7 linked regions of the Homo sapiens genome follow. The protein of the gene in region 5 purifies or fractionates together with the protein of the main gene of each other region. This does not show direct contact. Each region holds a gene or a part of one and is shown on either strand. Other genes may lie near its edges. The genes, in order: CKMT1B, AVL9, EIF3J, DDX24, HECW2, SH3BP1 and ALKBH5.

What was found.
Region 1: the proteins of HECW2 (region 5) and CKMT1B purify together in Homo sapiens (affinity purification with mass spectrometry, with the first as the bait; one large-scale study listed by BioGRID). This does not show direct contact.
Region 2: the proteins of HECW2 (region 5) and AVL9 purify together in Homo sapiens (affinity purification with mass spectrometry, with the first as the bait; one large-scale study listed by BioGRID). This does not show direct contact.
Region 3: the proteins of HECW2 (region 5) and EIF3J purify together in Homo sapiens (affinity purification with mass spectrometry, with the first as the bait; one large-scale study listed by BioGRID). This does not show direct contact.
Region 4: the proteins of HECW2 (region 5) and DDX24 purify together in Homo sapiens (affinity purification with mass spectrometry, with the first as the bait; one large-scale study listed by BioGRID). This does not show direct contact.
Region 6: the proteins of HECW2 (region 5) and SH3BP1 purify together in Homo sapiens (affinity purification with mass spectrometry, with the first as the bait; one large-scale study listed by BioGRID). This does not show direct contact.
Region 7: the proteins of HECW2 (region 5) and ALKBH5 purify together in Homo sapiens (affinity purification with mass spectrometry, with the first as the bait; one large-scale study listed by BioGRID). This does not show direct contact.

Annotation. Positions count from the first base shown.
Region 1 is NC_000015.10:43,592,661-43,596,826, reverse strand, and holds the start of CKMT1B (creatine kinase U-type, mitochondrial precursor), read right to left. Parts: upstream 2,801-4,166; 5' UTR 2,609-2,800; coding exon 2,460-2,608; intron 2,133-2,459; exon of another isoform or gene 1,949-2,132; coding exon of another isoform or gene 1,856-1,948; coding exon 1,657-1,855; intron 1,454-1,656; coding exon 1,358-1,453; intron 972-1,357; coding exon 750-971; exon of another isoform or gene 749-749; intron 621-748; coding exon 535-620; intron 420-534; coding exon 296-419; intron 1-295. UniProt on the Homo sapiens protein: Reversibly catalyzes the transfer of phosphate between ATP and various phosphogens (e.g. creatine phosphate).
Region 2 is NC_000007.14:32,571,989-32,575,488, reverse strand, and holds part of AVL9 (late secretory pathway protein AVL9 homolog), read right to left. Parts: intron 2,380-3,500; coding exon of another isoform or gene 2,291-2,379; coding exon 2,071-2,290; intron 1-2,070. UniProt on the Homo sapiens protein: Functions in cell migration.
Region 3 is NC_000015.10:44,554,147-44,557,646, forward strand, and holds part of EIF3J (eukaryotic translation initiation factor 3 subunit J), read left to right. Parts: intron 1-406; coding exon 407-521; intron 522-3,342; coding exon 3,343-3,500. UniProt on the Homo sapiens protein: Component of the eukaryotic translation initiation factor 3 (eIF-3) complex, which is required for several steps in the initiation of protein synthesis.
Region 4 is NC_000014.9:94,057,203-94,060,702, forward strand, and holds part of DDX24 (ATP-dependent RNA helicase DDX24), read right to left. Parts: intron 3,412-3,500; coding exon 2,896-3,411; intron 696-2,895; coding exon 620-695; intron 1-619. UniProt on the Homo sapiens protein: ATP-dependent RNA helicase that plays a role in various aspects of RNA metabolism including pre-mRNA splicing and is thereby involved in different biological processes such as cell cycle regulation or innate immunity.
Region 5 is NC_000002.12:196,321,055-196,324,554, forward strand, and holds part of HECW2 (E3 ubiquitin-protein ligase HECW2), read right to left. Parts: intron 1,567-3,500; coding exon 1,424-1,566; intron 1-1,423. UniProt on the Homo sapiens protein: E3 ubiquitin-protein ligase that mediates ubiquitination of TP73. Acts to stabilize TP73 and enhance activation of transcription by TP73. Involved in the regulation of mitotic metaphase/anaphase transition.
Region 6 is NC_000022.11:37,638,256-37,642,468, reverse strand, and holds the start of SH3BP1 (SH3 domain-binding protein 1), read right to left. Parts: upstream 2,801-4,213; 5' UTR 2,682-2,800; coding exon 2,623-2,681; intron 1,344-2,622; coding exon 1,301-1,343; intron 1,096-1,300; coding exon 991-1,095; intron 638-990; exon of another isoform or gene 1-637. UniProt on the Homo sapiens protein: GTPase activating protein (GAP) which specifically converts GTP-bound Rho-type GTPases including RAC1 and CDC42 in their inactive GDP-bound form.
Region 7 is NC_000017.11:18,207,828-18,210,454, forward strand, and holds the end of ALKBH5 (RNA demethylase ALKBH5), read left to right. Parts: intron 1-391; coding exon 392-569; 3' UTR 570-2,127; downstream 2,128-2,627.

The sequences.
Region 1 (4,166 bases), on a different chromosome or scaffold from region 5:
GGCACTGACGTGCCATCTCATTTATTCCTTCTTTGCACTCTCTGTCAACAGCCTTGTTCACTTCCTAAGATTCCTGACACTCTTTCTTTTCCTAATCTTAGTGTGACCACATGTCCTGGTTTTCCCAGTATGGTCCCAGCTGGTTTACACCTTTAGTCCTGGAGTGAGTCCTAGATAGTCCTTTTTACTATAAGACATGTCCTGGGTTGGTTGGTAAATTACATAATCTATTTATGCTACTCTTTGGTTTTCCTTATGTCCTCCCACCTAGCTCCCCTACATAGTCTTCTCTAACCTCTTTGAGGCCTCGGCAGAATCTTTCAAACACTCTCTTCATGTTACCACCCTTCTCCATGGAGATCACCCGTGTATGATCCTCCTCATTCACCCAGATCAGGAAGCTCTTCTCATTGTTGTGCCTGAGGGCCGGAGAGGGACAGTGATCAAGAGGCAAGGCAAGAATTGGGAGAGATAGAGGGAAAAAAAGCATTTATGAGGGCATGAAGACAAAAGAGGTAATGAGCAGCTTCATACCAAATTCCACGAGCATCTGGCCAGTCTCGAGCCATTCCTGCTGCAGTCAGCAACGGGGACACAGGCTTATCAAACAGAAAGTGGTCCTGGGAAGAGTAACGGGACTTGGGTTAAGAATCTTCATGGTGGCCCCTGGGCCTTTCAGAGCCCATGTCTCATCTGGCCCAGCCTTCCCCATCTGCTCCCACCAACCAGCACCCTCTTAAGGCCCTCACATCAATAAGCTGCTGCTGTTCAGCCTCTGTCATCTCACTGAGCCTATAGTAACGTCCAGCCAGGTCACCCTTCAGGCCACTCAGTGCATCCACCACAACACGTTCCACCTCTCGTCGCTCTGCTCGAGTGCAAGCTGGAGGCAGACTGAGTCCTCGGATGCTTCGGCCAGTTCTGACTCTAGAGGACAATACATACCTCTCATCAAAGTAGCCAGAACGGATCTGGGAGATAAGGGAAATGAATGTAAGTCACAGAAACACGGTGGGAACTGAGGGCCCCTGGGAAAGGAGAGACCTTCCTTAGGCATTAGAGGACTCTTTGTGCATTCTTCCTGCATGCATTGGAAGAAGAGGCCCTTTGGGAAAGCACTGGAATTGAAGGGGGCATTGCAGACCTTTCCCCAAACCACCCACCTTGGGTCATGGTCATTCTTATCTATCCTTCCATCTCCATATATGCTGCCCCTTAAGATATGATTCTTTCCTTACATTAAGATTAAAAGCTCAGCTGTATAATGACCATGAGTCAGGAAATAAGGTGAAGGGGTTGGAGATACAGAGTGTTGTACACAGGCAATGCAAATCAGAAGTGGGATATTTGAACTCACTTTACTGGCATCTAGATCCGTGGTGTGCTTCATTGTCCGGGGGTCATATCCATTGTGTCGCTCTTGGATCACAGGGTCAAACAGGTCAGCAAATACCTAAGGGGAGTTAAGAGGGAGAGATGGTTAAGGAGAGGGAATCCCTCCCCAGACTTCAATTGTGCATTGATTTCACTGGTTCAGAAAACTTAAGTATGGGGGGCTCAGAGTCTTGGGGGAAAGTGAGAGGTCTTTAGGGGAAAGGAGCTGGGATTACTGGGAAGATGAATTGGATCATCAGGGAGACTCTGGGGACCCCCTACCTCATAGGTCTCCTCATCTCCAGCCACCATGCCCACAGTCTTGATGAAGGGGTGGCCAGGGTTGTCCACGCCAGTCTGGATACACTGATCTAGCGTCCAACCAGTGGGTGTGGTCTTGTCGCAGAGCCGTGCATAGACTGCTGGGGTCAGGTGACTGGCCATGCAGTTGTTGTGCTTTCGGAGGTCTGGGTACTCAGCGCTGGGGAGGGGGTACCCAGTAACCATGGAGGGAGGGCACAGACGCCTAGACCTAGTGCAGTTACCTGGGAGCTGTCCAGTTGGCCATGTCTGGCTTTGCTCCGCGGGAGGAGGGGGAATTAGAAAGAGGGTAAACCTTGGTAATCTCTTTAGGGACTTTCAGAGTCTATGCTTTCCTAATAGTTCTAGTTGCCTCTGGCTGGCCAGCTCAGTTTCTTCAGATCTGCTCAGTTCTTTCCTCCCATGACACAACACTACGGATGGAGGAGGGGAAAAGCCTAAGGAGAGGAATTGAGGAAATGAGGGAAGGAGATGGAGGGGAGCGAAAAGGATAGTTCCTGGCTTTACAATTAGGGATTTGGGCAGCCAGTGCAGCTAGAACTCGTAGGGCCAGAGCTGGTCTTGGCAGGTCCCCAGGAATGTTCTTGCTTTATGGTTTTGGCCCCCACCCCCACCCCACTGAGGTCTGCAGACTGCACAGCCCTCCAGCTCCAGGGCCTTCGTGATTATAGCCCTTCTCTGTTGCCCGGATTCTCACTTCTACCCGCACCTTCGTTCCCATCACCTCCTGCCCCCGCCTCCTCCCGCGCCTCAGGCACTGTTACCTCGGGGGATACAGCCTCCGTCGTTCACTGGCAGCTCGTACAGGTTCCGGTCGGAGCAGAAACCCAGCGGCTAGAGACCCCGCTCCGGCCAAAGCCAGGAGCCTGAGTCCCGGGCGGGCGGACAGCAGACGGGAGAAGGGACCAGCCATGGCTTGAGGTCTGGCTACGGGATCCTGGAGTAGGCGCTGGCGCAAGATAAGATCCGGAACAGGGAGGGAGGATGCAACCGGATAGACCGAGGGCCGGAGCTAGGTCCGAGGCTGCAGCCGAAATGGGGGTCGGATTGGAGGCTGGAGCCGGAATGGGAGCCGGTGCCAATCAGACTGCAGGAGAGGCGCAATGAGCTAGTGGCAGGCGGGCGGGCGGAGGAGAGGGAGGCCCCAGCCGCAGTCTCCAGGGGTGGGGCTCCCCCAGGCCCCGCCTTCCCGCCTGCCACCGCGCTAGGTGCGCGAGGGCAGGGGTGGGCAGCACCCGCCAGGTAATTAGCGGGACCTGAGACTCGCGCGTCTAAAGCCGGGGATGTAGCCCCCTCCCGCCCCGGGGATGTGGCCGCCCAGATTTCAGCACCAAGTGGAGGACAGCACCCACGTGGACTAGCTGAACCCAACACCCTTCCCCCACACCCCTCGGTTTAAGCTGAAACTCGATCCGTCTACCCTGTGGGTGTGCAAGGGTGACACTGCCCAACCTTTCCTCTGCTTTCGGCCTGCCCCAGCCACCTCTTCGGTCTCCCGGGGGCAGCCGCGGGGAAACCGCGGAATAAACACAGATACCAGAGGAGGATATGGAGAAAGCACAGGGTTAGAGGCAGGCACTGGGAAAGACACCCACTGGCTCAAGGTCACCTTTTCCTTAGAACCAGGAAGAGGAGCAAGGTGCTTCCTTGCCACCTCTGTGCACGCCTTACAAAGTTGAGAAAGGACTCCCTGGGAGGAACCAAGGAAATATTAATTCTTATGCCATCTGTGCTGTGTCCTCCACCTCCATTCTGCACCCAAGTCTGAAGCCCTGTTATTTCCTGCCTCTGCTTCTCATGATCCCCCACTTTTTGTTTTCCTTTTGTCTCTCCCACTTTCCTCCACGTCCCCTACCTCACCTTTGATCTTTTACTTCTCTGCGTCTTTTCCAGGCTCAGATGTGTTTGCTGCTCACAGGATGCCCTCTGCGTTTTCTCGGCAAGCTTGCCCACCTGTTGGTGGTGCTGGGTGTGGGGGTGGGCAGGGAATCGTTAGTTTCCTCCTCCTCCTCTCCCTTGGCTTCTCTCTCCGTAGTTCCTAGTTCCTGTGCTGGAGGAGAAGGTAAAGTGAGGTGAAGGGTGTGGTGAGATGACTGGGTGTGGGACTGGAACAGGCAGGCACAGGTCTCCAGACACCACATGTGTTTCCTCTCTTGTCTCCCTAATGCTGTTTAATCCAGAGAGTAAAGGCGAGTGGTGTACAAAGGCATGAGGTCGTCAGGGAATCTCTGCCTTCCTCGTGGTCCCCTCTGCTGCTCTCTCTCTCCTCGTGAAACACATATTCAGATTTGAGAGGGCTTTGTTTCCCAGCTCCAGGTATGATTTGACCTTTGTCCTGGTAGCAAGGAGAATGAATGCTAGAGTTGAAATAGAGATGAGGGGCTTCAGCGTGGAGGGTCAGTTAAGGTGGAGTAGCACCGTGGCATTAGTCCCTTCCCTCTGCTATCCTGGTGTACCCACAAGACAGATAC
Region 2 (3,500 bases), on a different chromosome or scaffold from region 5:
CTTTCAGTCATGATGTTCTCTCCTTTGGACTTTATTTGGTGTTTCATTCTTGAATTTCCTAGCATTTCACTGTCAAAAACACTTAAAAAAGGCCAGGTGCAGTGGCTCATGCCTGTAATCCCAGCACTTTGGGAGGTCGAGGAGGGCGGATCACTGGAGGTCAGGAGTTCGAGACCAGCCTGGCCGACATGGCAAAACCCTGTCTCTGCCAGAAATACAAAAATTAGCCAGGCGTGGTGGCGGGTACCTGTAGTCCCAGCTACTCGGGAGGCTGAGGTAAGAGAATCACTTGAAACCAGGAGATGGAGGTTGCAGTGAGCCAACATCATGCCACAGCACTCCAGACTGGGCAACAAGAGCGAGACTCTGTCTCAAAAAACAAAACAAAACAAAACAAAAAAAGTCTTAAAAGAATATACTGAAAACTGATAAAGTTTTCAGCTTTATCAATACCATGGGAAAGCATCCATATGTGTTTCCTCCGCTTGGAAGATTAGAAATGGTTTGGAGAACTGATACAAATGGCTATTACTTCATATATTAATTGCATGTTGTTTACTTTGAAGGTGAAATACAAAGTACCTTTTGTTGCTAGGAAAGGAAATGAATGAGATACACAGTTCCATACACAGCATAAAGAAGTTGTTCTAAGAACACTTCCTCAAGCAGTTCATTGGGCTGAATTTCCTCTTTTGACCTTGTTACTTGTAAGAGTATGGGCCTAAGCCAAACTGTTTGGGATCAGATCCCACCTAAGCCTCTTATGAACCTCTGTGAGCTTCATTTTCTCTTCTGTAAAAGGCAATGACAAGGTCCCTACCTTCAGGATTGCTGTAAGGATGAAATGAATTACTAGATGTAAAGTGCTCAGAACACTGGTCCCTGCATATATTTAATGTTCAAAAAAAAAAGTGAGCTACTATTATTCAGTGCTTACAGCCTCCTGGGCAAATATTTTTAAAAAAGCAAATTAATTAATTTGCTTAAAAGCAAATTAATTAAGCTACATGGCAGTGGAGACTGAAGTTTTCTTTCTAGATTACCAAATGATTTGGGGTTAAAGGATTTAATTTTGGTGTCTCAGCTGCTACATTGTTAGTGGTGGCAAACATTTAAAAATATCTCATTAACAAACGAGGGCTTGTTCCTCAGCTGTCTTTTACAAATGAAAAACTCTCCCGAAACCTACTTTAAAACTCCTATGTGCACTGTAAACAACTAACCTGGGAGCATGTGGTGGTGGTGTTGATTAAAAAAATCTACTGATACAACAATGAATGTATCTAATGCCACTGTGGAACTGTACATTTAAAAATGGTAAAGATGGTAAATTTTATGCTATGTGTATTTCATCACAATTAAAAAAATAATGGTTAGTTAACTGAAACAAAAACACAAGCTCAACACATTTTTAACAACTCTAATAAATATCTGCCAAATGTCCAAGGTGAAAAGCTCACTGCAGAGCTCCATTTTCACTATTTATATATTTCTTTCCCAAGGAGAATGAGATAGTTTTAATGCAGGAGTAACTCCATGTTTACCTGCTCCATTTTAACCATTTAATACGAATAATAATATTTCTTAGAATGGGTTATAAATTTGAAGATTTAATCATTTACAACACGATTTTCAATGATTTCTATTTTTTATATTCTTTCTCCCTTTATACATCTTAAAAAACATGTGGCAGTATTCACAAACAGCTGCCAAATACTGATGAATATGAAGCAGTCATGTAAAAGTGATGATATATGTTCATGTTATGTTGGTATGTGTTGTTTCTATTATAAAGTAATAGTTTCAGAAAACATGTATAAAGGGATCCATTTTTGTAAAAGGACCACCAAAAGTACCATAAAACCAAAATCCAAAATACATGCATAGGAAAAGATTTGCAAGGCTATAAAGTACTAAAGACGTTAAAAGTGGCTATCTTTGTATGAGGGAATAACTGGTAATTTTTCTATAAGGAATATGTATTTATTGTGCAATCCAAAATCTCATAAATGTTACAAAATGAAAAATTATAATAAAACAGGTAGCTGTAGGCTCCGTGTGGTTTCTTACCTAATTGCAGTGTGGCAGCCAGCAGGGCATGAATGTAGACCGCAAACTGGGCCCGGATCCATTCGTCACCTCCCTCCCAGCCCGTGCCATCTAGGAAGACGTCATCCCGATTCTCAGTCACGTGCCTCACTAGGTAGTCTGCGAACCTTAGGTCTGCAGTGGTTGGGTTAAGCAGCTTCCTGAGTTCTGGATCATGGATCTGGATCAGAGCTTCTTCTACCTAGAGGGTATCCAGGTACAAGTCAGAGTCTGGGCATTCACGCAGACATCCATGCCACACTTTACAGAGTAACTACGGGGAAGGTGGAGCTGGAAATAAAAAATATGAATAATGGCATTCTCAAAAGGTGAGTCTAAGAAAGAGGTTTGTACACTGAAGTTTTCTTTCTATTTATAAAATGCTCATTTTCTGTTTTTAGAAAATACACACATAAATATAGTATTTTAAATTACAAAATTACTCACCTAGATTGCAAATATTTGGGAAAATATAGAAATACATGTAAAAATCACCTTTATTTCACTAGCAGAAATGAACACATTTAACAAGTATAATTCCTTAAATACTTTTTCTTTTGCGTGCAGATACTTTAGAATATTCTTTTTTTTTTTTTTTTGAGACGGAGTCTTGCTCTGTCGCCCAGGCTGGAGTGCCATGGCACAATCTTGGCTCCCTGCAAGCTCTGCCTCCTGGGTTCATGCCATTCTCCTGCCTCAGCCTCCTGAGTAGCTGGGACTACAGGCGCCCACCACCACGCCCGGCTAATTTTTTGTATTTTTAGTAGAGATGGGATTTCACCATGTTAGCCAGGATGGTCTCGATGTCTTGACCTTGTGACCTGCCCACCTCGGCCTCCCAAAGTGCTGGGATTACAGGCGTGAGCCACCATGCCCGGCCAGATACTTTAGAATATCTTATTATGTAATATTTGATATACTAAAAAATACATGTAACTTACAGGTTAGTTTTGAAGTATAATAATAAAAGAAATTCCTACGAACCCACCAACCAACTACAGAACTAGAATGTAACCAATAATGATGAAGCAGCTTTATGGTCCTCCCATCTGTATCCTCCTGTCTTGGAAAATGTATATACTTTTTCTTCTTCAAATTTGGGATTATAATAAATACATCTTTGAATCCTGGACTTTCATTATATTATAACCATTCACCCAAGAAACATGTTTTCATACTTTCTGTCAGAAACTACAAAAACCTCAGTGTGGCTGAATTTTTTTTTTTTCTTTTTTTTTTGAGACAGAATTTCACTCTATCGCCCAAGCTGGAGTGCAGTGGCACGATCTCGGCTCCCTGCAACCTCTGCCACCCGGGTTCAAGCGATTCTCCTGCCTCAGCCTCCCGCGTAGCTGGGATTACAGGCACCTGCCACCATGTCCAGCTAATTTTTGTATTTTTAGTAGAGATGG
Region 3 (3,500 bases), on a different chromosome or scaffold from region 5:
TGGGCGGATCACTTGAGGCCAGGAGTTCAAGACCGGCCTGGCCAACATGGTGAAACCCCATCACTGCTAAAACTACAAAAATTAGCTGGATGTGGTGGTGCACGCCTGTAATCCCAGCTACTCGGGAGGCTGAGGTATGAGAATCACTTGAACCCAGGAGGCAGAGGTTACAATGAGCGAAGATCATGCCACTGTGCTCCAGCCTTGGTGGCAGAGTGAGGCTCTGTCTAAAAAAAAAAAAAAAAAAAAAAAAACTAAAGTGTTTAGAAGAATGCCTGAAACAGTAATTACCAGTGTTCACTTTTATTTGTTATTATATACGCTTATTTAAGAATTCGTACAATACAGAAAGGTACTGAGTGCATCATAATCCCTGTGCTTTTTAAAAACTTTTGTCTCATTTTAGTTAGAAGAACCCGAAGAACCTAAAGTGCTAACACCAGAAGAACAATTAGCAGATAAACTGCGGCTAAAGAAATTACAGGAAGAGTCAGACCTCGAATTAGCAAAGGAAACTTTTGGTAAGACGGGATTATGATTGCAATACAGTATTAAACTGTTACAGGTGAAGACCCAGAAAGTTCAGAAAACATCTCCTTTTCTTAAAAGAAACATACTGGCTAATGTAGATATTAGAAAGCAGTTTTTAATCTCTGTGTATATTTGAGATTTCATTACATGTTCAGATTTTTGAATAATTGTTTTGAGTAAAAGATTATTAAGATAAGTCATTTATAGCAATGCAAGAAGGGCAAAAAGGAGTAGACTCAGATGAAGTACACTACTGCATAGAATATTTTTATCAGCTGGATGAAATTTGCATGAAATGTGAGGTCTGTAGCTTTGAAATGGACTGTAGGGCTGTCCTGTTGTCTTAAGACTTAGACAGTAGGATGTTGCTCCAGGTGAGAGGCATGCAGCTTTTGCTGTGCCTTCTTGTGCTCAGTGTCATTTCCTTCTGCAACCCTTCTTTGCCCTTACCATGCCCTATCTTTAGAGGGCCTCCATTTCTTTGTGCGGTGTCTGCAGCTGTGGTTAGTGCGTGAGATAAAAGTGCAGGATCCTATAAATAGATAAATTCAGAGTGTTCCAGAGTAAGAGACATGGCTAGAGAAATAGTCAAAGCCCTCGCTTCATTTAACCAAGTTATCGTTACCTGTTGAGTACTTTTCAGAGTAGAAGATCATGTTGAAACAGTTAAATCACTGAAATTTATAACCAAGAAGGAAAGCTCTAGTTATTCTGATACCCCTCCCCCACTTTCATACTTTCTCTACTCTGAAACAGATCAACAGGCTGACTGTAGTGATTGTTTTCCTTTTCATGAGGAAGTATGACCTTATCTGTCAGTGGATCTGTACAAATACCAGGAGTTGATGTGAATGCTCCTGTGCACCATTGTATGCTTGGCAGGTCTTAACTGCACTCATCTAATTATAGAGAGCTCTTGGCTGTTAATATGTGTCTTCCTAGGATGGTAAAAGCTGCCCATGTGTTTATTAAAGAGGCAGGTTTATGAAGTGTGCATAAAGCCTAGCATGGGACACCTGTTATAGACTAAAAGGTAAAAACATGCATTCATATAGTCATTGTTAATAGGATTTTACTGTTGTGTTTCTCATACTAAAATACCACATGTAATATTGTTAATAACTAATCTACTTGACATGGAGGATACAGAAGCATACTTATCTTAGTGTAAAACTCATCTAGGCCAGATTTTTTTTTTTCTAACAGGGTCTGGCTCTGTCATCCAGGCTAGAGGACAGTGGCTGAGATCGGCTCACTGCAACCTCTGCCTCTGGGCTCAAGCCATCCTCCCACCTTAGCCTCCCAAGTAGCTGGGACTACAGGCGCATGCCACCACGCCTGGGTAATTTTTGTTTTTTGGGGCTTTTTTTGTAGATACAAGGTTTCACCATGCTGCCCAGGCTGTTGTTGAAGTCCTGAGCTCAAGTGATCTGCCGCCTTGGCCTCCTAAAGTGCTGGGATTACAGGCATGAGCCACCATGCACAGCCTAGGCCAGATTTCTTCTATTGGGATTTAACATGTTTACCCCCGCTTAGCTTCTGGAGTTAGACAAATACTTTCACAGGATCCATCTTTGTTTCTTATTCTTTTTGTTCCCTCTCTCCCCACTTTACTGTGGGGGTGTTCTTGGACAAGAACAGAGTATCCCTTTTGTAATGTAATATGTTGTGTTTTGTTTTTAGAGAAAGGTTCTTGCTCAGTCATCCAGTCTGGAATGCAGTGGCATGACCATAGCTCACTGCAGCCTCAAACTCCTGGGCTCAAGCAATCCTCCCACCTCAGCCTCCCGGGTAGCGAGGGCTACAGGTGAATATCACCACACCTGGCTAATTTTATTTATTTTTTTGAGACAGAGTCTCACTCTGTCACCCAGGCTGGAGTGCAGTGGTGCAGTCTCGGCTCATTGTAACCTCCGCCTCCTGGGTTGAAGTGATTCTCGTGCCTCAGCCTCCCAAGTAGCTGGGATTACAGATACATGCCACCACCATGCCTGGCTAATTTTTGTATTTTTGGTAGAGACAGGGTTTCACCATGTTGGCCAGGCTTGTCTCTCGGACTCCTGACCTCAGGTGATCGGCCTGCCTAGGCCTCCCAAAGTGTTGGGATTACGGGTGTTAGCCACTGCGTCTGGCCACACCTGGCTAATTAAAAAAATTTTTTTTGTAGAGATGAGGTCTTGCTGTGTTGCCCAGGCTGGTCTCAAACTCCTGGCCTCAAGCGATCCTTCCTCTTAGGCCTCCCAAACAAAACACTGGGATTACAGGTGTGAGCCACTGTGTCTGGCCTTGATATATTGTTTTTAAATGAATAAAATACTTATTTATAAAGAAAACCTGTTATATATAAATAGATGTCAAAATACTAAAATGACAAATTTGTGATACAGAATTATATGCTTCCTTATCGATGCATTAAATCAGGTGTAGTGGCACGTCAAATAATGTCATTTGAGAGTAATTATGACTGAACAATATTAATATTGTAAGATATCTGTAATGGCAGGAGAGTGTGATCTCTCCTGGTAAGTCAAGTTTTGCTAATACCACTGTGATTTGTTGCCAGTCAATTGAAACTGAAGGAAATGCTGAATTAGAGGTTAATAAAGATGTAACTTTTTTTCTGATTTAAGTTTGTAACCCCCCTCCCCCCTCACCCAGCCATTCTATCCAGTGACTCCAGTGGCTCCAGGTTCAGAGCCCCTGCTTTAGAATGAAACGACAGGGTTATTCAGATAGCTATTGGCTTTGTAAGGTTTCATTTTTAAAAATCCTAACCTCCTGATACTTTTCAGTGCTTCTTTTCTCCTACAGGTGTTAATAATGCAGTTTATGGAATAGATGCTATGAACCCATCTTCAAGAGATGACTTTACAGAGTTTGGAAAGTTACTAAAAGATAAAATTACACAATATGAAAAGTCACTATATTATGCCAGTTTTTTGGAAGTCTTAGTTCGAGATGTGTGTATT
Region 4 (3,500 bases), on a different chromosome or scaffold from region 5:
AGTCTGGCTCCGGTGCCCATACTCCTAACCAAAATTTTATGCTGATATTCACTAGATGCACACACTAATATTACTGCTACTATCAATGGCAGTTAACATGAGTAAGTGCTTGCAATGTGCCAGGTGGCTTCTTAAGCTCTTTATACTTAGTAACTTATTTTACCTCAGTAAGAACCCTAAGAAGCAGGTACTCACTGCCATTTAATACATGAGAAAACTGAGATACAGAGAGATTACATGACTTGTTCAAGGTTACACAGCTGGGATTTGAGCCCAGAGAGATCTAAACTACCACACTCTTCTATTAATACTTCTCTACATCAGGGTAACCAATTACATGCTTAACTTATGCCCATTTCACAGAAAAAACTAAGACTCTAACCTGACAATATCAAGTAGCTTGGAGAGAAGGGCTACTTGACATGAGACAAAGCAAGGTTTTCTGGAGACCAAATCTCAGCAGTGTTGCAAAAGTGGGAGTAGTGGGCACTCGATGCCAGTGGTATTCTCTGATGCAAGAGCCTTGGAACCAACAATTCCTCCTCCCTCCCCCAACCTTTGCCTTAAAAATTCCCCATTCAGTGCAGGCAGATGCCTATAAATTTTCAGATGCCCCTACCTGGTAATGGATGACATGCTGGACTTTAGGAATATCCAGACCCCGAGCTGCCACATCTGTTGCCAAGAGAACACAGCTGGGGTAGAGAGAGAAAGCTTATTAATAATAACTAACAGCTATCTTTAATCAAATTCTTACCAACTGCTGAGCATCCTAAACATTACAGTCCTTACCAATACTCTGTAAGATATCACTTGTATACCCTTTTACAGAAAAACTGAGGCTCGGAGAGATTAACTTCCCAAGCTATCTACATGGCTATTCAGCTGTGGAGTCTGGATCCAAATTTGGGACTCATTGACCCCAACCAACATGCCATACTCTGCAATGATAAAGACTCCCTTCAGTGAGTTAAATGAGGCCATACATATTCTGGGTCAGTGACTCCTCTCCTAGCACCCTCTCATTTACTTCCTCCCAGTGGCACACAGACTTCCTTGCTCTTCCCCAAACAAACCAAGCATGCTCTCACCTCCAAGCCTTTGCACTTGCTACTCCTTAAGGCCTTAAAGGGTCTTGCCTCAGATGTCCATATGACTCACTTCATTACTTTCTTCAGCTCTCTGCTCAATTCTCACTTCATCAGAGACTGACCACACATACCCAATCTCTTTTCTCCAACCCCTGCTCGACTTACTTCTTAGGATCACTTGGCAGACTGTGGGCTTACTTTGCAATTTATTATCTCCCTCTACTAGAATGTAAGCTTCATGAGAGCAAGGACTTTGCATTACTCACTGCTGTTATTACCACCACAGAGAACAACATCTGGTTCATGGTAAGCACTTGATAAATGTGTTGGATGATGTTTCTCAATGTGTGGTTCATGGAAAGTCAAAAGTACTTGAGGTGCTTCAAAACATAAGACTCTGGCCCTTCAGGGTCCTCACTCCCTGCATGTCTGAGCTGAGGCCGGGAAATGCAATGCAAATCCTAGTTTGTAAAACATTAAACTACTGCTCTGGATCAAGGTCAGCAAACTTTTTCTGTAAAGAGCCAGAGAGCATTTCCAGCTTTGTGAACCACACAGTCTCTATGGCAACTATTCAACTCTGCCGCAAAAGAGGATATTGACAATACATAAATGGGTCTTGCTGTGTTCCAGTAAAACGTCTACTAAAAAAACAGGCAGCAGCCAGGTGTGATGGCATGCACTGGTAGTCCTAGCTACTTAGGAGGCTAAGGTGGGATTGCTTGAGCCCGTGAGTTCAAGTCTAACCTGGGCAACATAGCAAGACCCCATCTTAGAAAAAAAAAGGGCAGCAAGCAAGATTTGGCACGAGGCCTATAGTTTGCCAAGCCTTGTTCTAAGCTAATCTCAGTAAACCACTGATACTACTTACCAATTTTTAAAAACCAGTAAATCAAACACTTGTTCTAGAAACTAATTACCCCATGACCTGACAAAACACTGGCAAAAGACACTTTGTAGTCTGCCTCAACTTTCCAGGCCCTCATCTTGACAATCTGCACCCCATTCCCTGAGCATCAGTCTGGTCCAAAGGCAGATGGACAAAGACATCAGGAATAAGAAATAGCATGGGCTCTGAGGTCCGACAGGCTTGTCTGAGGCCCAGCTCTACCACTTCCAGGCAGAGAAACCTTGGGCACACTGATCAGCTTTTCTAGACCTCATTTTTCCATCTATAAATGAGAATAGTGATAATGGTAATAAGTAGTAAAGGGACTAGAAATTATTAAAGCTAACATTTAGCAATATATACATACTATGTGCTAGAGACTGTTCTAAACACTTTACACGCATGAATTTACAATCAATCTTCATAACAACCCTAGAATGGGTTCTATTATTATCCAAATAATGAGAAAATTAAAGTACAGAGAAATTAAATAACTTGACCACCTAAGGAGTGACAGAACTAGGATTTGATTTCAGGCATTCTGGTTCCAGGATCTGTGCTCTTAACCATGAATCTATTCTGCTTCCTCTTAAGGATGTTAGGAGAGTAACTGAATGTGATTCTGAATCTAAAGTGCCAGCACAGGACCTAATCTATTGTCTATACATTCAATATTATGTATTGTCACCTATATTCATTAGTATTGAAGTTTCTGTATGGCATTTAACTGCAACCAAATTCACTAAATGACAGTAACCTTGCCAAATGCTGTGCAAAAAAAAAAAAAGGCTACCTACTACTGAGACAAGGCCCCTATGACAGAAGGTGGCTTTTCTACCATTTCCCCACCATCCTGACCCCTTTTACCCCAGTAACTAACTAGAGGTTAAGCCTCTGGGGACAGTCCTAACTTACTCTTCCAGACGGGCAAACTGCTCCAGGTTTCTGAGCCTCTGCTTCTGGTGCATACAGGCATGCAGGGTCAAGGGCATGATATCAAGGACTTTGAGGAGCCCAGAGAGGCGTTTGATGCAGGAGATACTGTTGGCAAACACTAAGCTGCGGCCTGGATACTGCATCAGGAAGTAGTACAAGTAGAAGTCTTTCTCATCAGTCTCACAATGGATCTTGGTCTCTGTTAGCGTCTCCACCGTGGCCTCATTCCTTGTGAGGTCAATGACCTTGGGCTTGCCCCTCATGCCAATTTTCTGCATAAGGAGGTCAAGTTTGGCTGTTTTATCCATTTTCTTGGTGTGCTTCTTATGAAGGATTCGAGCAGGAGCCTGATGCACCAGGGTGAGTGTGGCAGAAAAAACAAGCGTTTGTCTCTTTGGGTTGTATTGGGAGTCATTGAGCATCTCTAGCAGCTGTGAGAGCTCAGCAAAATGGCCTTTCTCAACCATCCGGTCAGCCTCATCCACTACCAGGCACCTGCAGATCCAGAGAGACCCATATCATTGGTCAGCAGCGGGTTAAGAGGAATCATCTATAGCACACCCTACACTCATCCTAAACACACA
Region 5 (3,500 bases):
CCTTCCTCACCTGTAGAGTAAGGAGGCTGGAGCTGCTGGCCTTCCCTGCTGGGAAGCCTGGCCTATCACTGATTCTCAGGGTGCCTTGTAAGCAGTGCTGATGGGATGGTTGGCAAAGCCAGATGTGCCCCTGTGGTGGGGTCATATCCCAGATCTGGAAGCAGGTTTAGTTTTTGCCTTGCCTGGGCCCCGGGCTTGGACTGTCTGCCTCCTGAAGGATGGAGTTTTCCATCTGTTTCAAGTCTGTTTCTTTATCAAAGTCAAATGCAGTCATTTCATTTTCCTGCACACAAGTAACAATCTTATTCTGAATTAAATGACTTATTCTTTTTCTCTCTTTTTTTTTTTTTTGAGACAGAGTCTCGCTCTGTTGCCCGGGTTGCCTAGGTTGGAGTGTAGTGGTGCAATGTTGGCTCACTGCAACCTCCACCTCCCGGGTTCAAGCAATTCTCCCAGCTTCAGCCTCCCAAGTAGCTGGGATTATAGGTGCCCGCCACCACACTCAGCTAATTTTTTTGTATTTTTAGTAGAGACAGGGTTTCACTATGTTGGCCAGGCTGGTCTCGAACTCCTGACCTCGGGTGATCTGCCCACCTCGTCCGCTCAAAGTGCTGGGATTACAGGAATGAGCTGCCGTGCCCGGCCAACTTATTCTTAATTAAGGAAAATCATCAAAAGGATAGTGCCAAATCACTCCACCTCTGCCCTCTAATGGCTATTTCAGAAGGAAGATACAATGTTTCTTCTATCTACTCTTTGCTCCACTGTACAGTTTAGAGCCTCTAGTCAGCTATGCATTATTAATTTGCATAACTTGTTTTTGGTCTTCTCTATCTCCTCAGTATGACTTACTACTTTACTCACAACTTACAAAAAGCTCACAAAAAGAAAATAGACATTAATTACACATTAAATTTTAAGAGAATGTCAATGAATAAATTTTAGTTGCTTGAATGAATGTATATGTCTAGGAGCTTTATTATAACACTTCTTCAAGTCTAGGTCTCGTTTTAAATGGCTCCAAGACAAGATTGTTTCCGTTTTTCAAGAGTAACAAGTTCTCTGGATGGAATTATTTAGGATAAGGTAGGCATCAACCTGATCCAAGAATTCTGCCCCAGGGAGAAGTTTTTATAAAAAGCTCCAATATACTGAGAGACAATCAAACACTATGAGATTTGACACTGAAATATTAACAGTGGGTACATCTTGGAAAAGATAAAGACGCAAAAAACATATATAATTAAAATAAACTACTTTTTTGTCAAGTACATTTTAATAAGTGTAAGGACACTTTTATTTTTAAAAGAATTGTGTTACTACTTCTTATCAGTATGAAAAGTCCTAGGACTACCAAGTTTCATGTCATTTTTTCCTATATGAACTAATCTCAACAAGATCCCCAAAGGTAAGGGCTGATTACCCGATGGCTTGTCGCTCCAGCAGCCTCTGGACTGGAATGGTTAGTTTCCCCAGAAAACGCTTGATGATGGGACGGCTCTTGGCAAATTTGTCTTTAATTTCAATTTCTAAGACATCAGTAAGAAGTGCAAAAAAGGAATATTTCTGAAAACACAAACAGATAACATGCTGGTTTAAAAGAAAGACAAATATGATACTATATCATTTTATTTGTATAGGAAATGGTATCTCTTAAATTCTAACAACATACAGAGTTCCACATAGCTAGAAATAGCTGCAGCTATTGTCAATCCTTTATTCACTCAGAATGATTAGCATTCACCATGATTAAAAAGCAGCAGTCAAGGATCTGTATGACAAAAGAAGCCCTCTCAGTCAATCATGCAGCCCTTCCTAGTTTCACAGTTTTAGGAGATGTTATCAAATATTAAGTTATGCACAATGCAATTTTAGTACTCCCTACATTTATTGTATCTCAATTCTTTGATATTTAATATCTTGTTATAGAATGGATTAGAATTAACTAGTATATTTGATTGACAATTTGAATTCCTAATCTCATGAAATTCTGAAGTTGCAAAACATAGTTGAAAATACTCCTCCACTTAGTGGTTAAAATAGGAACATCTGCAGAATACTGTGGTTTCCCTGATAAATGTTAAAAGAATGTTTAAATGGAATTTTTCCTTAAGTTTAAAAGGCATACAGGGTCATTTCTTCTGGGACAGAAAAATAAAAGTATGAGGTTAAGATAGCTTTTGTTGTTTTCATTTTAAGAATGCCACTGGGGAAATTTGGATCGGACATTAATAAGGATATAAAATAAATATGAAGAGCTTTACTCACAGAGACTTTTACATATATTATCTTCACTTTATCTTTACAACGATGTAACTTTCTTTTTGAAGATGAGAATCTCAGGATAAGTAAATGATGGTGCCAGGAATCTAACCTAAATTATTTCACTGCTTCCCTGACAGTATCCATGCAACTATAGTGATGTGAATAGTGTTAGCCAACTTTTCACTTAGGTGCCTCTAGGTTTATCTAGTCATAACAATTAAGGTTTTCCAAAGGGCCAAGCAATTTGGCAGTCTGCTTAATGGAAAAAAGTACTTGCTTAGAATAAAAAAGCCGAGTTTAATCCCCACTTCTGTCTCTGAATAGCTAGTCCCATAAACACTTTAAGCTTCAATTTCTTAATCACCAAAATGAAGACATAATAATCTCATCCTTCGTGCCTCCCTTTCAGGCTTGCACTGGTGACATGGTCAAAAACTTTGCAAATTTAAAATGTTAGGAAAATAGTTACTGCTTGTTTCATTATCATATCTATTATGTGCTTTCTAGAATCATATTGAGATATATTTTTATTTCTTCTAGGCTTTGAAATGCATTAGACTAAGTGGCATGCCCTTAAGAGTTTTTTTTGTTTTTTGTTTGTTTTTTTTTTTTTTTTTTACCATGATGAGATCATTAGTAGTTTCTTAAACCAAGTGTAAGAATACAAGCAATATTCAATATCTAAAACCATAGGAACTGCCCAGGAGAAATGCCTTGCTGTGTTGGCAAGTCTCAGATAACTATATCTTTTCTGCAATCGGTTTTAGATCCCCTGATATACCTCTCTCCAATTAAATATTTCTACAATATTGTTAGAACATATTGTTGTCATTAAATATTTAGGGTATGATCTAATTAACTGTGTAACTCCTATGCCAGCCCAGAAAGATTTTCACACTAGTTATGTAAAACATGCCTCAGATCTCCAAGAAATGGAGGGAGAGCTCAAGCTTTGCTCACTAGATAAGAAGTGTCTATTTGTTCATTCTTTGACTTTCCGTAGTTCAAATGAGAAAACCCTTTGCTTGATTTCACTGATATGGTGCACTAAGATGACTGGTAGCATACTGTAGCTGTGAGGAAGTCTAAAATACCATCAACACAATCTGGCTTCACTCAGGATGATGACTCCTTGAATGGCTCATCTAATTAACAAAACTCTAGAAATTCATAAAACATTTGCCAAAGCCCGCAGAGAGAGAAATTCCTTTAATTTGTACTAAATGTATGCTACA
Region 6 (4,213 bases), on a different chromosome or scaffold from region 5:
CCTTGGGGCAGGGGAGGAGGGAACCCAGGAGGGCCACAGTCCCAGATGAGAGTGGAAACAAGATGACAAGGCGTGGTGGGGGTGACATTTCCCTGAGAGCATGGATGGAGCCCCTCTCCATCTGGCGTGCCCTTTCCTCTTCCCAGAAGCCACTTGACTGGGCAGGAAGGAATGACCAAGTCCTACTGCAGACTGGGAAACTAAGATGCAGGGAGGGCAGGGAGCTTGCCCCAGGTCACACAGGTGGAGGGAGAATGGGAGCGGGAGCTCTTTCCCCTGTCCCAGGGTATATATGGCTGACCTAGCCACCGCTGAGTTCAAACGCTCTATGGCTCCCAATTTCCTTGCCTTGGCCACACTGAATTGTCAACTGATTCCAAAACATGGCCCCACACTCCCACCCCATCTGGAGTTACGGGGAATGCCTGCTCTGGGATCAGAGACCAGGGTTCAAACCTCAGTTCTGCCACTTACTAGCTATGTGACCTTGGACAAGTGACTTTATCTCTGAGCCTCCAGTTCCTCATGTGTAAAGCAATGCCTGCCCCTAGGGTTGTGCCAGTGTTCCATGAGACAGTGCACTCATATGTTAGTAACAAGCTGGCGGTTATCAGCCAATAAACGCTGCCTCTTGATTAATAAACGTGTATCCCTCAAAAGCCAGCTCAATTGCTACCTCCTTCAGGAAACCCTCTGAGGCCGCCCCATTGACAGCCTGCTCTTGCGCACTGATTGGACAGAGAAGTTCAGGTGCTGTCAGAAGCCTGGCCTTGGCTTATGGGAACTGGTGCACAGGGAAGTGGGGTAAAGGTGATGGGGAAGGTATAGGGCCTCTTGAGTGCAGTGCCAGAGGGGCCTTGGAACAGAGCAGTCTCCATGCCCTTGGTGCCAGACACTCAGACTGGCAAGGAAACCCCAGCCCCGACCTTGCTTCCCCATTGGATGGAAGTCTCCTGCTCAGGCCCCTCCTTCCCGGGACCCCCCACTCACCACCCGCTTGTCCATGTCTGCCCCGCTCTGGCCCTGCAGACAGGCCTGCAGCCGCTTGTGGATGTTGTGGGCTGCCCGCTTGGCCGGCTCCAGCCGCTGTTCTACCTGGGAAGGAGGTATGGAGGTTAAGGATCAAGAGAGGCTGTCTCCCCCTGAGCAGGAAACTTTCTCCTGTCCCCTGGGGACCCCATGGCCAACAGCTTGAGGAATGACTCAACCCAGGCCCCTACCTGGCGTCCCCGCCCCGGCCCTCTGCTCCGAGACAGCCTGCACAGGCCTGCCTTCCCACCTGCCCGGCCCAGGCACGTACCTGCAGCAGGTCCTCACCCAGGAACTCAGCGGTCTCCGGGGTGCTGCGGGGAGTGGTGGGGGGGGGGGGGAGAGTGCTTCTGCTGAGCCTGCCTGGGTTAGAACGCCCCCTACTTCCCTTCCCCGCAGCAGGGCACCTGGACCCCAGTGCTTCCACTGTCCCTCCCAGCTGAGGCCTGCCCTGGGTGGCCCAGTTGCTTCATCCCAGTCGGAGCACATTCCATGGGGGTGGGAATAGGATACATGGGTTTTTCCTCCTCCACCCAGGGCTGTGTCCTGAGAGAGGGCGGACAGATGAAACTAAAGGGGAGGCTGAGAGACCCACCCGGGGCCCAGCTTTGGGACACAGAAGCCTCTTTTCTGCCCACTCCCAAATCCTCAGCCCACCCCGGGATGAGGAGTATTAGCTGGCCCCAAGAACGGGAAGTGCAGGAGCTCAGACTCCTAGGCACAGTCACACAGCACTCTGGACTACAGCTGTGGGCAGGGGTGCACAGGCCCTTGGCCCCCACCTGGGGACACATGGGGGATGCCAAGGCCCACTGCAAGGTGGTCTGACTGTCCAGGCTATGTAGGCATCTGTGCCAGTGTGAGACTAGAACCAGGTCTCTGGACACCCAGTCCCCTCCCTGGACCCAGAGAATGGGGAACTCCTGAGGCTGGGGGAAGAGGAGCAGAGAAGACAGGCTCTGAGAGGCTCCCCAAACTTCCGGCCTCCGTGCCACCGGCTCAGAGGCTGGGGGTGGGAGCTGGGAGACCTGGGGATATTTCCACCTGAGTCCAGGAAAAGCAGAAACGAGACAGAAGCAGGAGGCCCCTGGGCTGGGGGGAGGGGGAGGGGGAGGGACGCTGCAGGCCAGGGGCAGGCCCCTCCTCCCACCAGGCCAGGACCCATCTCCTCCCCTCGCCCCAGGTCTGTGGCCCTAATCGACCCTCCTCCCTCCCCGGCCCAGCAAGCAGAGGTGGTGAACTGTCCCATTGTCCAGAGGGGACAAGTGAGGTCAGGAGGACCATCCACTTAGAGACTCGTGGAGGCAGAGAAGTCCCAGCGTCCTAGGGCAGAGAGCATTCTCCCGCCTGAAGCCCCCTCCAATCCGGTAAGGGGGGGCATCCCTTCCCCCAAAGGCCACCCTTGCTCCTCCAGCTCTGCCCGAGAGACGGGGGCGGCGTTCAGAGAGGAGGAAGAGAGAGCAGGAGTCTGGCCGCTCAGAGGGTGGCTGCCCAGCTGTCCCCAGCCTCCCCCACCCCCGTCTCCCCCGACCCTTTTACGACCCCTCAAGTCCTGCCGGGGTAAGAGTGGGGCTGGAAGCGGGTGACACTCACCGTCCCAAGCTGCCCGTCTGGGCCAGCTGCCGCATGCGGTGCAGCTGCCTCTTCATCATCTTGGGGGCGAGCTGGGGGCTGCGGGGTCACGGCGGGGGTCGCGGGCCCGGGGAGCCCCCGGTCCAGCCTGCCTCTCCTGCGGCGCGGCTCTTGCCCCGGATGGGTGGGCGGCGCTCTCGCTTCCTGGGCCGCCGCGCGGCTCTTGCTGGCGGCCGGCTCTCTCCTCCCCCGCTCACGACTCCGCCCCCGGCCCCCAGGTCACTCCTCTCTCCAAGTTGGTTTCCTCGCTCTTCCCCGGCTTCCGGGCCCCCGGGCGACCCCCGGCCGGGCCCCCGCTGCTGTGTGTCCGCCGGCCGCGGCCGTCCACAGGTTGTGCCCGGCTCCTCCTCCCCGCAGCGCCCCGCCCAGCCCCGGTGGCGGGAAGCAGGTAAGCCCATTCCTGCCCCTGCGCCCGCAACCCGCCCCAGGCGGGGTGCCTGCCCCACCCGCAGCCTGCAGACCCGAAGTATAAATAACCTTTGCATCCCTCGCAAAGAGGAAAGGGTACCAAGCGAAAGAGGGGTAGGCCTTTCTGACCTGTCCTGGCCTCTCTGGGCCTGCCGCGGATACTGCCTTGCACTCTCTTCCGCAGAGGACCTCTGGCCCCCTGGAACTAAACCCCCCACCACTGGATGACTGGCTGGGAGCTTTGGCTTCCTGGGGCCACGGGCTGCTGTGTGGCCGTGGACAAGCCCCTGGAACTCCGGACTCGCTGTTTCTAATGGTCTGATGGGCCAGCTGTCCTGGGCCTGCCCATTCTGCAGAGTGGACAAGACACCCCTGCCAGCTCCCTTTAAGGGAGGTGCGTGCCACCCCTCAGCCACCAGGAACCCTCCCAGAGCGGTTCGCGACACCCTGTTCTCCACATCTCCTGGCAGTTTGCTCCATCTGTGAAGCCCGTCTCCTCTCATTCCTCCTGGCAAACAGCCTCAGTCCCCCTTCCTTCTTGTAGGGCAATGATGTAGGTGCTGCTCTGACTGCCCCCAAACTCAGTAGTTCTCCTCTTTGGCCCTCCACTCAACACAGAGTTAGGCATACAGTAAGTGCTCCATAACTGCTGGTTTTACAAGATGTGAGCGCCTTTAGGAAACAGTAGGCTCTCCTTACCCTGCACCCCTGTGGCATCAGGAGCCGCAGGCGTGGGGAAGAGGGGAGGGTGTGCCCCAGAGTCCTGCCACACCCTCTGCACTTTGCTTTGTTAGTTTCAGTTTAGTTTGAGACTATTTGAGCCACTACTGTGTGCCGGTGCAGACTGTGTGCCGGTGCAGACTGGGCGCCTCTCAGAGGCAGGACCTTGGCCCCACACATCTCCATACTCCCAGCACCTAGCCCAGGGCCTGGCACACTCACTGGCTGCTTCTCTCCTCCCTAATGAGGCAGGACTCATTGGGGGTGGGAGGAGCTGAGAAGGGAACCCAACAGCTGCCTGCTATGGCCAGAGCCTCCCAGATGGGAGCCCACCTGAGTGTGGAATCCTGGTGGGAAGTTGGGAGGCTCCAAGATCAAAGCTCAGGCCAGGATGAGATGTCAGGCAAGGTTCCCTCCCCCATCT
Region 7 (2,627 bases), on a different chromosome or scaffold from region 5:
TGGGGTTAGTAAGTGGAGAAGGGGGTGTTGGGAGGCCCAAGAGAGAGAAAGTGGGTAGAGCTGGGAAGTAAAGGTAGATGGCAGAACCATGCAGAGTCTTGAGGCTGTGGTAGGGAAGACCTCTGTCCAGCAGCCCTGGCAGTGTCCCAGGGCACCAGACTCCAAGCCAGGCAGACCCCACAGGGTAATTGGGAAATGTCCCAAAGACTGGGATGGTCACTGGCACTTAGTGGGCAAGAACCTCCGATACCAGGGCCTCTGCCAGGACTACCCTTCGTTGAGGACCACTGAGCTGAAGTGACCCATCCCAAGGATGAGACGAGGTACAGCGGTAAAGCCAGGCGCCTCCTGCCAGCCTCTCAGATAACGTCCTACCTCCCTTTCCTTGCAGGCCACGGATCCTGGAGATGGACAAGGAAGAGAACCGGCGCTCGGTGCTGCTGCCCACACACCGGCGGAGGGGTAGCTTCAGCTCTGAGAACTACTGGCGCAAGTCATACGAGTCCTCAGAGGACTGCTCTGAGGCAGCAGGCAGCCCTGCCCGAAAGGTGAAGATGCGGCGGCACTGAGTCTACCCGCCGCCCTCCTGGGAACTCTGGCTCATCCTTACGTAGTTGCCCCTCCTTTTGTTTTGAGGGTTTTGTTTTTGTTCATTGGGGGGTTTTTGTTTTTTGTTTTTTGTTTTTTTTGATTCTATATATTTTTCCTTGGTTTTGTTGCCTGTTAGGGCTGAAGAATAGAATTGGCCAGGACCTAGGTTCTCATATTCTTGGTATTCCTCCTGGATGGAAAGGCTGTTGGCATCAATAGGGGACAGAGGCTGATGCTGGAGTGGCCAGTAGAGGTGGTGGAGCAGAGCAGCCATCTTTTAAGTGGGGCTGTATCAGGCTGGGTTTATTTAAAAGCAACAAAATGTTTTGGTTAAGAAAATTATTTTGCTTTCAGTGTAAATCTTCGCAGTGTTCTAAACAAAGTTCAGTCTTCTGCTCGCCCCTTTCCCTCACTGATGTCTGCACTTGGTTGAGGTCTCCTGGAGCCTCACAGGCTCTGCTGTTCTCCACTTCTCACCTGCCATCCACGCCCTGCAAGCTCATGCAAACACCCTTTCTTCCTCCTGCGGCAGAGTTGTTCAGGTTGCCTGGGCAGGGGCTTAAACAGTGCCAGCCCCTGCCATCCCAAAGCTATTGTTAAGCCCCCCAGGCGTCCTCCACCCACGCCCACTAGCCTGCCATGTCCACAGTTCCTTGGGCTGCTGAGGGGCTAGTGCAGTGGTCCTGACCTCTCTTATCAAGAGCACACTTCTTTGCTGGTTGCTCCTTTTGAGCATATGCGTGTGATTATTTGGAACAGTTAGACTTGCCACGTTGGGTCAGTTTTAGAAATTGTTTCTAGCTAGAGGGACTGGTGTCCTTCCAAGTCTAGCATTTGGGGTATGGAAAATTGTTGTGGTGTGTGGTAGGGTTTTTGTTTTCTTTTTTGAGTTTTTTTTCCCCCTTTAGTCTCCTGGCTTTTTCCTTTCCCTTCCCTTCTCCACTGGCCAGCTTGGGCCTCATCCTCATGTCATCCTTCTAGGAAGGCGCCTGCCCCATCTTGTCTGCCGGCAGCATGCATCCAAGGCCAGAGCTCAGGCCTGCAGACTGGGCTGGTGCCTCCTCCGCTTCAGGGTATGGGAGTTGGTGAAGGGGCTTTCAAAAAATAATAAGGAAAAAAAGGTAAAGTCTTTGGTAGCTTCTATCCACTCAGATCCTGGAAGGCAGCAAGGTTTTGTGGATCTAGATTCATTAGGAATGTCTTCTTGTCAGCCAGGCCAGGACCCGGGCTTGCCAAGAGCAGAGGCCCTCCCAGCAACCAGGATACCACCACTTTGGGGGCTTTGTGTACAGAGGTCCGGGTCTGAGACCTCATAGGCTGCAGAAATCTGGGGCAGCCACCATCAAGAAGCCCCTCTCAGGGGCCAGAACTCCTTTGCCAGCGTGGATTTCTCAAGTCGGGACTGCATAATTAAAGCAGTTGCAGTTTTATTTTTTTTACAGCTTTTTTCCCAAAAATGATTTGTAGTTGTGTGTGCAGCACTTCGCCCTGATATGTGTGCTCTACAATAAAAACCAAATCTAATATATTTTGAAACAGTTGTCTGATGTTGTTGTAAGAGAGGGCTTGCCTTTGGTGCTTCCTTAATCCCTTTACTTTCTTAAACTTGAAACAGGGGTTGGGGAGGCAGAGCTAGCTCATTGGCCGCCAGCGTCCCAGAGGAGTTGGTTGGTCTTGGACACTGGGCCTCCTGTGTGCCTAGCCTTGGGTTTATGGCTGAAGGTGGACTTGCCCTCACCCCACTGTCCTTTCTCCCACTCCAAGGAGGGTGAACTTCATAAACCACAATGTCCAGGTGCCCAGGGACCACACCTTCTGGAGTTCTGGAAGTCCCTCTTTTAGATATGATCACTGAGAGGCTGGTGCTGGTGAAGGGGGAGATGGCAGGCACAAAAGCAAGGGAGAACCTGGCTTTTGTGGAAAATATGCGAGTGATTTTGCTCATTAAACAAATACTTGGCCAGGCACGGTGGATCACCTGAGCTCAGGAGTTCAAGACCAGCATGGGCAACTTGGCAAAACCCCATCTCTACTAA